Linked DNA regions of Homo sapiens: regions 1 and 3 are each linked to region 2. Evidence: fine-mapped expression QTL. A gene starts in region 2. Each other region holds a variant in brackets. All regions are shown on one strand. Distances are between the middles of the regions.

Region 1 (4,000 bases), 30 kb before region 2:
GCCTAACAGCACTGTTGAGCCTAGAAGCCTCACCCACCCTCCTCTACCCACCACACATGCACTCTAAAAGACAGTCCATTGTATATTTGGTTTGTAATACAAACTTCAACCACTGAGCTTATCAACTGAATGTAAATCTCCATATTAATACTTGTATACAAAAATACAGAAAACAGAATAGAGTAATAAAAACAAAAAAAGCACATTATGAAGTCAGAAGACCTGATTTTAGGTCTGGCTGTTACATGAATAAGACATTAAATTCTCTAAACATTGTTTCCTTAACTTGAAAATGAGAGTGGATGGATGAGCACGGCCATTCCTTCACACTCATTCGGAATCTTAGGGGGCTTCTCTTCCACCAAGCTGCTCACCCTGACTTCTGATGGCTCCAAAGACAGAACCCTGTAGTCACCTATCTTCTCCCTTCTCCCCTGACATGACTGCTTTTTACTTCTTTCCTTTTTCTGTTCCACCTCCTGGTCCTTTCCATTGTGTTTTCAAAAACTACTGCCTCACGGCAAACGAGCTCCCCTTTATCTTCAACCGATTCCCCTAAAGATTATTTCCACCTAACTGGACCCTGCTCCTCTTCTCTCTAGCCCTGTGAAATGGCAGCTTCTCATTCTAATGTGCTATGAGTGAGGATGACAAGACAGTAACATCAACATTATCCTAATTGCTCCCTGCAGCTAAGACAGTGTTGGTGAGATCTATATAGTTTTATAGTTCATAATTATCTTGACTTAGAGTTAGAATTATTTTAAAATATTTATTTACTCAGCAAAGATTTACTGAATGCCTACTATGTGACTAGCACTGGACATTCAAATATAAAAAAGAATATAAAAAAGACACAGTCCCTGGCCTCAAGTTACTAGAATCTATTGGCAGAAGAGACAAGTGAAGGGAAGCCCCCCATCTTCCATTCAATCACACATGTCCCGGTGTTGGGGTGGCCCATGGAAGGGTGTTCCAACCACAGTCAGGCAGAAGAAGGAACCAACAAGCTTCCAGACAAAGACTTCTCATGTATGACTCACCCAAAAAAGGATTTCTGCTTAATGGAAAAAATTAAGGCTACTACTTAATTTGCTCCTTATAAGCTACAGGTCACCTTTGATATATGGAGGAAAAAGAGCATCACATACACAAACGGTCCCTTGAGTTTTCACATACCATTTAGGAGACGCTGGTGGGGATGTGGGGTTTGGGGGTATCCATGGTGCCTTGCGGTCTTTCACAGGCTGCCGGTTCATTTTTAATCTGGATGAAACTGTTGTCTGCTGCACTCTGCTTTTACTGTGAGGTTGGCTTTGTCTACCTCTTTCAGCTTTGCGGAGTCCCTGTGAGAGATAAGTAAGAATTATAAGGCCACACAAATACCAAAGAAACTATGGTTTAACCTCTGACTCACTGAAGCTCCAAGTTCTCCATGTTATTCATGCATCCATTCGGTAAAACCTGAGTAGAAAGCACTGTGGCAGAAATTTGGGGGAGGGTGTAAATTTCATTGAAACAACCATGGTAGGGGCGGGGGGTGGAGGGTGTAGAATTTAAATCCCTGGCTCTGCCTGACACCTTTAAACATATAAACAATATATAAAATATATTTTTATTTATTCACAATTTGTTTCCTAATTAAACAAAAAAAATTTCATACCATATTGTTAAATTATTTTTCTTTTTTCTTTTCTTTCTCTTTTTTTTTTTTTTTTTTTTAAGAGACAGGGTCTTGCTCTGTTGCCTAGGCTGGAGTGCAGAGGTATGATCATAGCTCACTGCAGCCTCAAACTCCTGGGCTCAAGCGATTCTCCTGCCTTAGCCTCCTGAATAGCTGGGATCACAAGTGTTAGATACCATGCCTGGCTAATTTTTTATTTTTTGTAGAGCCAGGGTCTCACTGTGTTGTCCAGGCTGGTCTTGAACTCCTGGGCTCAAGTAATGAGTAAAACATTTTTCATAAAAATACTTAACCTCTCTGGGCCTTAGGTCTAAATAGAATGAATCT[A/G]GCGATTTAAAAAATGTTATCGAGAATGCGGGCTGTCTGTGGAGAGGCGCACCCATCTGAATTCCTACAGGTTCAATCTTGACATCTCAATGATTCATGGTCGCCCCCTGCCATAGAAGTTTGGGAAGAAACAGACTTGATCCTAATCCATTATCTGTCAATAACTTGGGATAACTGCTAACTCTCCTTTTCTGGAGGCCACCTGAAAATAAACAGATTTGCTAAAGAAGCCTTTGGGCAAGACCACCAAATGTCACTAATACAATAAGGGTATTCGACCAGGAGGTGGTCTTTTGGCCAGTTTTCCACTGATAGGGCCATAAGTAAGTTTTAAACAGAAGCTTAAAATATAATGTAGTTTCAAATCAAGTTGTACCCTGCTGGCTCCCAAAGCCATATTAGAAAGCACTCACCCTAGGATGCCCTTTTAATATGCAGTAATTATTATTGATCGATATTTATCTTTAGCAGGAACTAATTTTTTTTTTTCTTTAAGACAGGGTCTTACTCTGTTGCCCAGGCTGGAGTACAGTGGATCGATCACAGCTCACTGCAGCTTCAAACTCCTGGGATCAAGTGATCTTCCTGCCTCAGGCTCCCAAATAGCTGGGACTACAAGCATGAGTTACCACATCTGGCTAATTTTGTTTTTAGTAGAGATGGGGTCTCACTATGTTGCCCAGGCTGGTCTTAAACTCCTGGCCTCAAGCAATCCTCTCGCTTCCCAAATTGCTGGGATTATAGGCCTGAGACACCACACCCGGCAGGAACCAAATCTTAATCCCCTCAAGTCTCACACTTCCAAATCAGAAGCAGAAAAAAAACTGAATTTTAAAATCTCCTGCCCAATTAGGATATTGGTATCATATTAGTTAGGATCTTACCAAACCAGGAATAGAAAGAATTCTCTATTCTAGTAACAATATTAAAAATTGTTATTTTTTTGTTAAAATATATAAACAACTTAAATAGCCAGACTCAAGGACTGCAGCATCCAATTGCCTGAGAACTGGCTCCACCATATACCAGTTTATGTGACCTTGACAATGTCAGATTAACACAAATGGGCCAAAAGAGAGGAATGATTTCATACTTGCTGTCTTGCTGGCGCCAGAGTATCTTTCTTCCTAAACGGCACATTCTCAGTCACAGGCTTCTTTTTCCCTGCTTTTGTTTTTGCCACGGCTAACACCTCGTCTTTGAAGCTTGCACTTTGGTCTAGAATAAATGGTCCTTCTTCCAGAACTATATCCGCATCTAATACATCAAGCTCACTCTGCAACCTCTGGGTCTCCGGAAGCTCCGTATCGGGCTGATACTTATCTACATGGAAATTTTTGAAAAACAAACTGAGGAAAATGCTATTCAAATCAAATTGCTGAGAATGATTATCTACACACAGATAGGCTCCAAATACCTATCCTAGCCCTGCTGAGAAGCAGATGTTTTGTTGTCAACATTGTTCCTCCTCCTATGAATATTACTGCAGGTTTATAAGCAGAAACCTAGGTGTCACGGTTGACTCCCTGAATCTTCGCTATCATATTTACTCATTTACCTGGTCCCTTTGATCCTAATTTTAAAATAGCTCTTACATTTATCTCTGCCCTTCCTTCCCTTTTGCTATTACCCAAGGTCAGGCTTGCAGTATCCTGTGACTGGAATAACAGTGTCTCCTAACTGATCTCCTGTTTATCTTCACACTGTCTTCTGGCTACCAAAATTGTGCTTCTCAAATGTAATATTTAAATGTCACTTCTGGCCAGGGGCGGTGGCTCACGCCTGAAATCCCAGCACTTTGGAAGGCTGAGGCAGGTGGATCACCTGAGGTCAGGAGTTCGAGGCCAGCCTGGCCAACATGGTGAAACCCCATCTCTACTAAAACTACAAAAATTAGCCAGACATGGTGGCAGCCACCTATAATCCCAGCTACTCAGGAGGCTGAGGCAGGAGAATCGTTTGAACTCAGGAGACAGAGGTTGCAGTGAG
Region 2 (4,207 bases):
ACACCCATTGCCATGAGGACCCCTGCTGCGGCACACCCCTGCCGGGGCACATCTGCTGCCCTGGGTATGCCCACCGTCTCAGACACCCCCACAGCCTGCCTCCTCCCACACTGACATGCAACATCTCCACAGCCAGCCTCCTGATCCACTGACCCAGGGACCCCTAAAGCTGGAGGCCCCAGACTCTCTGGCTCCCCCACAGCCTGCCTCCTTTCCCACGGGCTCAGAACATTCCCACTACAGGTCTCCTCTCCAAGCCCAGGCACTGCCTCGGCTGGGGGCCCCCCAAGAGCTTGCTGTCCGTCCCACAGGCCCAGGCCCCCGCTGTGGCTCAGCTCTTCTCCCAGGGCTCCAGGTACCACCACAGCCTGGGGCACCCTTACCATCTGTCCCGCTCCCCACAGCCCTGGGACACTCACACAGCCCGTGTCCTTCCCCAAGGCCCTGGGTACCCCTGTAGCCTGTTGTATCCCCCACAGGCCTGGGGCACCCCCAGAACCTGCTGCCTGCTCCCCAGGACATGATGACTCTGCAGTCTGCGCAGCTCCCCGTGACCCTGGATCACCCCCAGAGCCTGTCTCCACCCACACAGGCTGTCCCCTTTCCCTGAACCCTGGGTCACCTCCACATCTAGTTTCCTCTTCAGCAGCACAGGGCACCCCAACAGAGTATCCTGTGCCCCACGGGCCGGGCATACCCACAGAGTCTGTCTCCTCCACAGCCTGTCTCCTGTAACACACACCTGCGGCACCCACAGAAGTAGGCTCCTCCTCCACAGCATCGGACACCCCCACAGCCTGTCCCCTCCCCCATACGCCAGGGGTGGCCCCACAGACTGCTTCATGTGTCAGAGCCCCAGGAATCTGCGGGGACTGTCCTCTCCCCCACAGACCTGCAGCACCGCCACAGCCGAGCTCTCCCTCCATGGCTCTGGGCGCTCCCACAGCCCCAGTCCACCCCACGGTCCCAGGCTCGCCCATAGTCTGTTCTTTTTCACAAGGGCCTGAGACAAACCCATAGCCTATCTCCTCCCCAGTCTCAGGAACCCCCACAGCTTCTCCCCTCCACAGGTGCGGGGCCATTTCAGAACTTGACGCCAAAGCCCCAGGCACACTCGCAGGAGGCACCCTCCCAGCCTGTCCCTGTCCACAGAAGCCTAAGGCTCTCTCGTAAGCTGCCCCTAAGCCCAGAGCTGTGGGCCCTGAGGGGGCCCGAGGGATCCCCCTTGCCTGTTCCTTCACCCAGGGCCCTGTAAGACCGCCGCGGCTTGTCTCTACCCAGGAAGCTCGGCCAGGAACACCCCTTTCGACAGGTCCCTCTCCTGCAGGCACGGGATGGAGCTCGACTCTACTTCCTTCCCCACATCCCGAGGCGGCCCTCATAGCCTGCACCTTCAGCCACAGGTGCAGAATGCTCTCATGGCCCAGAGATCCCGGGCGACCTTTTCTCTCGCAGCCCCGGGGACTTCTATCTTCGGTCTCCTCCTCCCCAGACCCGGTCACCCACACAGCCCCGGCAAGCCCCACCACCTCGGGCTCCCCCACAGCCCCGTTCACCCACACAGCCCCAGGGTCCCTTGCAGCCTCGATGGAGCCTGGGGTCCCAGGAGCTCCCAAAGCCTCATTCGCCCCGGCGGCGTCGGCTGTCTCCGCCGCTTGTCTCGTCCCCCATGGCCGCTGACGGCCCTGTGGCCTTTCTGCACTCACACAGCGCGTCTCCCACTCCGAGGGCTTCGCCCGGCGCCTTGCTCCACGGCCTCGGGACGTCCCTGCGCCCCGTCTCTTCCCCCACGGCCGCCGAACCCCCCGCCCCGACCTGCTGGGCCCCACGCAGCGACCCGGCATCTTAGCCGCCTGCTCTCCCCGGCGCAGCCTGGGCAAGGCCCCACGGCGAGTCTCCCGGCTCATAGCTCCAGGGCAGTTCCCTTCCTCCCTACCGCGGCCCTGGGGGATGTCTTAGCACCTCGCTCCCTAAGCTGCTCCACACACGCACTCACACACTCCGCTCCGGCCTTGCAGCCTTTCTCCCTCCGAGCCCCTCACCCATCCCACCCCCGCCCAGTCTCGGGAACCCGCCCCCAGTCCCAGGCCCCCGTAAAGCCTAGACGGCAGAAAAGGTAACTGGGGGGACAAAGCAACAAAGGCTTTCCGAGTCAGATCTCCTCTCCCCCAAGTCCATGACTCTATGCGGCTTCCCAGAATCCCCCCCAGCCCCGGCCCGAGCCCACCTGGCCTAGGGTGAGGCGCGGCTACTGGGAGGCGGGCAACGGGGGCCCCCAACAAGGCCGCGCTTCCGGCCGCCTGCCCAGTCGCCATAGCAACAGGCGCAGGGCGGCTTGGGAGCCTTTGAGGCCCTGAACTATTTAAGGATCCAGGTGTTGCAAGGCGGTAAGTTTTGCAGCCAGTGTCCATGAGGTCGGGGCTGGGACTAGATTAGGGTAGATCTAAGCCTGGGCTTGGGAGTGCAGCTAGCGCAGAAAGATCTGAGGAACTAGAGCAAAAAGCCATGCGGATGGATTGTGGTCGTCAGAGGCTCCCGTAGTCTTTAGCGGCGCTGGCTTCCGCAGGCTCCGCCCTCTCTTGCCCACCCGGAAACAGCCTCGCCCCGCCTACGCGGGACCCAACCGCGGCGACCGGACGTGCACTCCTCCAGTAGCGGCTGCACGTCGTGCCAATGGCCCGCTATGAGGAGGTGAGCGTGTCCGGCTTCGAGGAGTTCCACCGGGCCGTGGAACAGCACAATGGCAAGACCATTTTCGCCTACTTTACGGGTTCTAAGGACGCCGGGGGGAAAAGCTGGTGCCCCGACTGCGTGCAGGGTGAGGCCGGGATTCGGGGGCTGCTGTCCAATGGAAATGGCAGGAAGGTCGAGCCTACGGCCAGAAGGGGGGCTTAGCGGAGGCAGAGTCTTGGTTCCAGACATCCGCGGAGCAATCTGAGCTGTCCCCAAGTCTCCTTCTATTAAATCCTACCCCGCCCTGCCAAGAGCGCTCTTCCTTTTACCACCTTACCCGGATGATCTTGGAATCTAGTTCCTTAAAACTTCTCACTCCCCCAGTACCATTAGTGTCTTACAGGATACGTGAGTTGGTCAGCAAATACATGTGCTTTCCATTGTTACGGGCGCGGTGGTGCAGGGGCAAATCGGGACTGGGATTTGGTCCTTACCCTTAACGTGGCTCTAAGACCAGAAGGGAACACCTGACTTGTGTTGACCTCTTCAGTTAGCTGCAGGTTAAAGTCTGAGTGCTTACCAAGACTGGGGGAAGGGGGAAAGAACACAGTTTATACGTGCCTGATTGTAGAGTTGACGTGCGATTATTTTATCTCAACTTTTTTTAAAGCTGAACCAGTCGTACGAGAGGGGCTGAAGCACATTAGTGAAGGATGTGTGTTCATCTACTGCCAAGTAGGAGAAAAGCCTTAGTAAGTGGCAATGTATAATCTACCTCGCAGACGTGCACAAATTGCATACTTAGGCGGGAAGGGCCTCAGGGACTTACTTACCCAGTTTGTCTTACAAGGTAATGTCTGACAAGTTAAACAATTAGAAGCTATTAAATACAAATTTAAAATGCCCACCTGAATTAAGTAAGGGTAATTCAACGAATTTGGTCTGGTGTAAGCCCAGAACTTAGCTGGCTTTACTTTTATATCTTAGTCACACTTTGAAACTTTGCACAGGGTAATTAGTAGATTAAGCCATAGTCCGCAAGGTTTTTTAAGTGTTTGCAAGAACAGTGATTACTAAAAAATTAAATGTAGGACTATGTCAAATATTAAGCAAACTGTAATAAACCAAGTAAATTTTTTTCATGATCACTTTTTCTTTTCGAATAGTTGGAAAGATCCAAATAATGACTTCAGAAAAAACTTGAAAGTAACAGCAGTGCCTACACTACTTAAGTATGGAACAGTAAGTATCTTTAAATATGCTGGGCCTGTAATTCACTGTCAGAACTCTTTTAACTTGCTGTGGATCCAGATTTGAAAAGATCTTGACATTTCATCTCAATTCCATTGTTGTTCAGAGTGCTGCTGAAAGTCCATTCCTATGGCCAATCCCAATAAACTGATAATGTAAATATCTAGCTATTAGGTCTTTTTCATGTTAAGTCACTCTTAAAAAACCAGAAAGTAGGTTGACTCATAATTCCTTAAAACATTTGCATCAACAGTTGTTTTCTGTTTAATTCATAATTCTGGTT
Region 3 (4,207 bases), 70 kb before region 2:
AGGGAGAGAGGTGTGACGGGTAGGGAAAGTGATGGACAGGGAGGGGCACACAACTGCTCTTTGTTTTCAGGTTCAGAGCACCTGGGGAGGGAGTCTCAGCTGGTGGGGGCTTCCTCTGTGCAGATGAGGAAGCAGAATAGCTGGAAGGACTTCCTGGACTTGGAACCTGGCGGCGGAGGAAGGCCCTCCCGAATCCACGGGATCCAACCCCGGCACCTCACTGTACTGATGGGGAAGCTCAGCACTGGGTAATGGGGGTGGGGGGCAGTCAAAAACAGGGCATTTGGTGGCACAACTGGGACTGAAAGACAGTCCAGGCTCTTAACTCAAGGCTCTCTCCTCCCACTCTCCCATGGAGATGTAGGCGGCTGTCCCTGGCTTGTGTCGGTAAGTCTTTCCTCTCTCTCTGTGTCGCCCTGAGAAGCATTCCCTTCCACGCATCGCTGTCAAGAGAAGCAGCAGCATGTAGCAGGTACACAGATCGCAGTTGCTTGCAGATGTCATAGAAGGTCCAGGCAATGTGTATGCAACACCGGTTGCTTCCCTTTCTAAGTAACAGACACAGATTCAGTCTCTCTGAAGCAGAAAGGGAGTTTATTGGCAGGCTATCGGGATCTCAGAGAATCAGAGGAGCCTGCAGGGATAGGCTTGAAAAGCAGATGGGGCTGGACACAGTGGCTCATGCCTGTAATCCCAGAACTTTGGGAGCCCGAGCTGAGCAGATCACTTAAGGTCAGGAGTTCGAGACCAGCCTGGCCAACATGGTGAAACCCCATCTTTACTAAAAAATAAAATAAAATAAAATACAAAAATTAGCTGGGTGTGATGGTGCATGCCTTTAGCCCCAGCTACTCGGGAGACTGAGGCCAGACAATCGCTTGAACCTGGGCGGCAGAGGTTGCAGTGAGCAGAGATCACGCCACTGCACTCCAGCCTGGACAACAGAGCAAGACTCTGTCTCAAAAACGAAAAAAAAGAAAAGCAGATGGGAACTGAGGCTGCTGGAGAAGGCCAAGAACTTTCTAGAAAGCACAGCAGTCACCTTTTAGCAGAAGGACTTTAGTCTGATGGCCACTCTCTTCGCTGTACACACCAGCCCCTGAATGAGTGGGTTATAAAGAAACATCAGTTTTGAATCACTCATTCCAGCCAAGCATGATTAGCCAAGCCTGGGACATGCATGCCCCAGCTTCCAGGTGTGGGAGACAAAGATTGAAGGGTCCTATCTTGGGAGGCAGGACCCTGTATCCACATAACCATATTCCAAGGGCATAGAGAGTGCAATAGACTTCTGAGGGTTGGACAATTCTCATGAGGGATTGCATCATGAATTCCAAATGACTTCAACAGCAGGGGCTGTGTCATCACACCTACCCAGCAATCCCCCCAGAGCTCACCCCGAGACCCCAGCCAAAGTTAAGGGTTCCAGAAACCTTCAGAAGGGTGCAGCTGCCTTTGTTTAGGGGTGTGTGAGCGAGGGACTTTTCGGCCACCTGTGATGGGCACTCCTCCCGGCATGAGGACGTGAGAGCATCCTCTGCAGGAAACTGCACAGAAGGGGCTGGGGGGTCTCCCAGATTGATCCCTCCCCGCCTCCCAGGGAGGAAGAGGCTGCTGGTCCTCCCGTAGTGCTTTCCTGTTGGGGCTGCTGCAGGCTGTGTGCTTTCCAATGTTTCGACATTGCAATATTTCATACTTGGGAAGTAAGAACAACCATGATTTTCAGAGTTCTATTTCTTGACATTCTATTTCAAGCTGTAGAAAGTAATA[C/A]TTAACAAAAGCCTTCTGAGCCTAAGATGCAGTGAGGCTCCACTTGGGGAAGTGGATTTCTGCTCCCCTCCGTACACAGAGGGGAAGAGTTATTGGACATTCCTGGGGTGGGGGGATGAGGTTTTCTGTTTTGGTTTGTTTGGGGTTTTTTTCATGCATCAAAAGAGAGCACCAGACTGGGAATCAGAGGACCGTAGGCCTAGTCCCAGTTTTGCTTCTGATTTCCTGTGAGACCTGTTTCCACTCTGGGTTTTTGCTCTCATTCACAGAAAAAGGGGTAGTAAAGCCTCTGCCTGCCTCGGAGATCGGAAAGTGTATTGTGACAAGGACACTGCTAGGTACATGAACTGTTCTAGATAGTTGTTTTTGTTTTTGTTGTTGTTGTTTGTTTGTTTTTTTTTGAGATGGAGTCTCGCTCTGTCGCCCCGGCTGGAGCACAGTGGCGCGATCTCGGCTCACTTCAACCTCCGCCTCCTGGGTTCAAGTCATTCTCCTGCCTCAGCCTCCCGAGTAGCTGGGACTACAGGCACGCGCCACCATGCCTGGCAAATTTTTGTATTTTTAGTAGAGACGGGGTTTCACCATGTTGGCCAGGCTGGTCTCGAGCTCCTGACCTCGTGATCCACCCGCCTCGGCCTCCCAAAGTGCTGGGATTACAGGCGTGAGCCACCTCGCCCGGCCCCTATGTGTGTGTCTTTATTGAAGAAAGGGTCCACAGCATTGTCCAGGTTTATAAAGGGGTCCTGACCCTTCAAAATAGCAAGAACTCCAGTTTTAGTCAATTCCTTTGTTCCGATGGGAAACAGGCCCCCTAAGTCAGTGTGAGGAGCCTGGGGCTTTCATGCCTAAAGCTGTGAACAATTATCTGAGTTAATTAAAAGCTTTGGCGGCCAAGCCAGCAGCCCCCGCCCTCATGCCCAGGCGGCCTCTGTCACACATGCTGCAGGTCACAAGTGATGCATGCCAGTCCGAGGCCCCAGCCCGGAATGGGGAGCCCACTACGTGCCCCTCCAGAGGCTACACCACGATCAACATGGAGAGAAAGAGCCCAGGCCCCCAGGCCCTGCCCAGATTGTCCTCGCAAAGACCCAGCCACCCTGTTGGCCCCGCGTCTGTTTCAAATCCCATGCCTGGGATTTCTTTTTGACATTAAAGTAAATGTTGGCCAGAGAGCCACCTACAAGGGTGACGAAGGCTGCCGGCTTCTCATTGGAGGGCTGGGAGGAGACTCTGCAGGTCTCTGAGGACTGCCAAGACTCCTTCATCACACTGAGCAGATATAAAATCCATTACCAAGGGCTAATAAATGCGGGGAGGCCGGCAGAGGACATGCCCGCCTTGCTGGGAGGGCACACACTCAGGCCAAGAACAGCAGGCTCTCCAGGCACAGCCACTCGCCCTCCGATATTTGCCCCTCCTGCACGCACCTCTCTCGGAGTCCCATTGTTCTCCATTCAATCATTTGGGCACCAATTCTGTTTCTCTTTGACTATAAAAGCCCATGCCTGCAGACCTCTCTACACATTTATTGTGCGGCTGGAATTTATGACGGATTGGATTTCAGAGGAGGGATTGATTAAATACAGATGGAGCACTTGACAAGGGCCTGGGGGTCCCGGTAGACTCCCCCATTTAGAAACAGAATAAAGATTAGAAAGCGTGAGCAAGGGCAATCCGAGGTAAGTCTTGCTTTCAAAGGGAGGGAGGGAGGACAGGATGGGGGAAGCTGTCTATTCCTACTCAACAGCATCTTCTTGAAGCTGGATGAAATTCTTTGCCCGGTGGAGTAATGAGCTGTTGAGGCCACTCCTCAGTGCCTCCAATGCATTCAGCCTCCTGGGGTACAGGGTGCTCTCCTGCTCACCTGCGTAGGGCTGAGATGGCAGTGTGGACCTCTCGGCTCTGGTAAATACCGCCAGCACCTTTGCTGTCTAATCGCACTGTGTTCACACCTATGTCCCCCACTTTCAAGACTTCACGCTTTGGAAAAGCGTCAACTATCTTTCAAGGCCTAATTCAAAGCCACCTCCTCCATGAAGACCATCAAAACCACAACCCTCACTCAGTAACAGTGAATCGCCCCTTGCAATGTACAACCACAGTACGCTAGCTTCCCTCTCCTCCTGCTTTGTTTTTATTCTGCTTTGAAAAGGTCTGTGTCTAAACTCTCTTTGTGTTTCTTTTTTCTTTTTTTCTTTTTCTTTTTTCTTTTTTTTTTTTTTTTTTTTTGAGACAGAGTCTCACTCTGTCACACAGGCTGGAGTGCAGTGGCATGATCTAGACTCACTGCAAGCTCCGCCTCCCAGATTCAAGTGATTCTCCTGCCTCAGTCTCCTGAGTAGCTGGGACTACAGGCGTGCACCACCATGCCAGGCTAATTTTTGTATTTTTAGTAGAGACGGGGTTTCACCATGTTGGCCAGGCTGGTCTCGAACTC

Which allele goes with the higher level. Positions count from the first base shown, and alleles are read on the strand shown. Sizes are in standard deviations (SD) of each study's normalised expression. Not every link is listed here.
For the expression in atrial appendage of the gene that starts at base 2,302 in region 2, allele A in region 3 goes with a lower level than allele C (small effect, 0.21 SD a copy in GTEx).

Evidence for each region. PIP is the estimated chance that this variant, and not a neighbour inherited with it, causes the effect. A credible set is the group of variants that fine-mapping cannot tell apart.
Region 1: its variant is the best candidate, but not a certain one, in a credible set for the expression of KIAA0753 in esophagus muscle (GTEx, PIP 0.83).
Region 3: its variant is the best candidate, but not a certain one, in a credible set for the expression of KIAA0753 in atrial appendage (GTEx, PIP 0.57).

What each region holds. Positions count from the first base shown.
Region 1 is chr17:6,608,815-6,612,814 of GRCh38, forward strand. It overlaps KIAA0753, which reads right to left. Exons shown (of 19, transcript NM_014804.3): 8 at 3,105-3,334; 9 at 1,180-1,346. Among named protein-coding and RNA genes, the nearest start is that of KIAA0753, 30 kb to the right of the region's middle. The variant A/G (reference allele first, on the strand shown) is at 2,012.
Region 2 is chr17:6,638,410-6,642,616 of GRCh38, forward strand. It overlaps KIAA0753, which reads right to left and starts at 2,302. Exons shown (of 19, transcript NM_014804.3): 1 at 2,228-2,302. It overlaps TXNDC17 (thioredoxin domain containing 17), which reads left to right and starts at 2,651. Exons shown (of 4, transcript NM_032731.4): 1 at 2,651-2,818; 2 at 3,344-3,425; 3 at 3,840-3,915. The coding sequence starts at 2,674. LOC122526780 reads right to left here and starts at 1,907. Exons shown (of 1, transcript NM_001396008.1): 1 at 1-1,907. The coding sequence starts at 1,907. RefSeq lists enhancers at 861-930, 1,829-2,710, 2,841-3,110, 3,311-3,370.
Region 3 is chr17:6,568,263-6,572,469 of GRCh38, forward strand. No RefSeq gene overlaps it. Among named protein-coding and RNA genes, the nearest start is that of PITPNM3, 14 kb to the left of the region's middle. The variant C/A (reference allele first, on the strand shown) is at 1,771.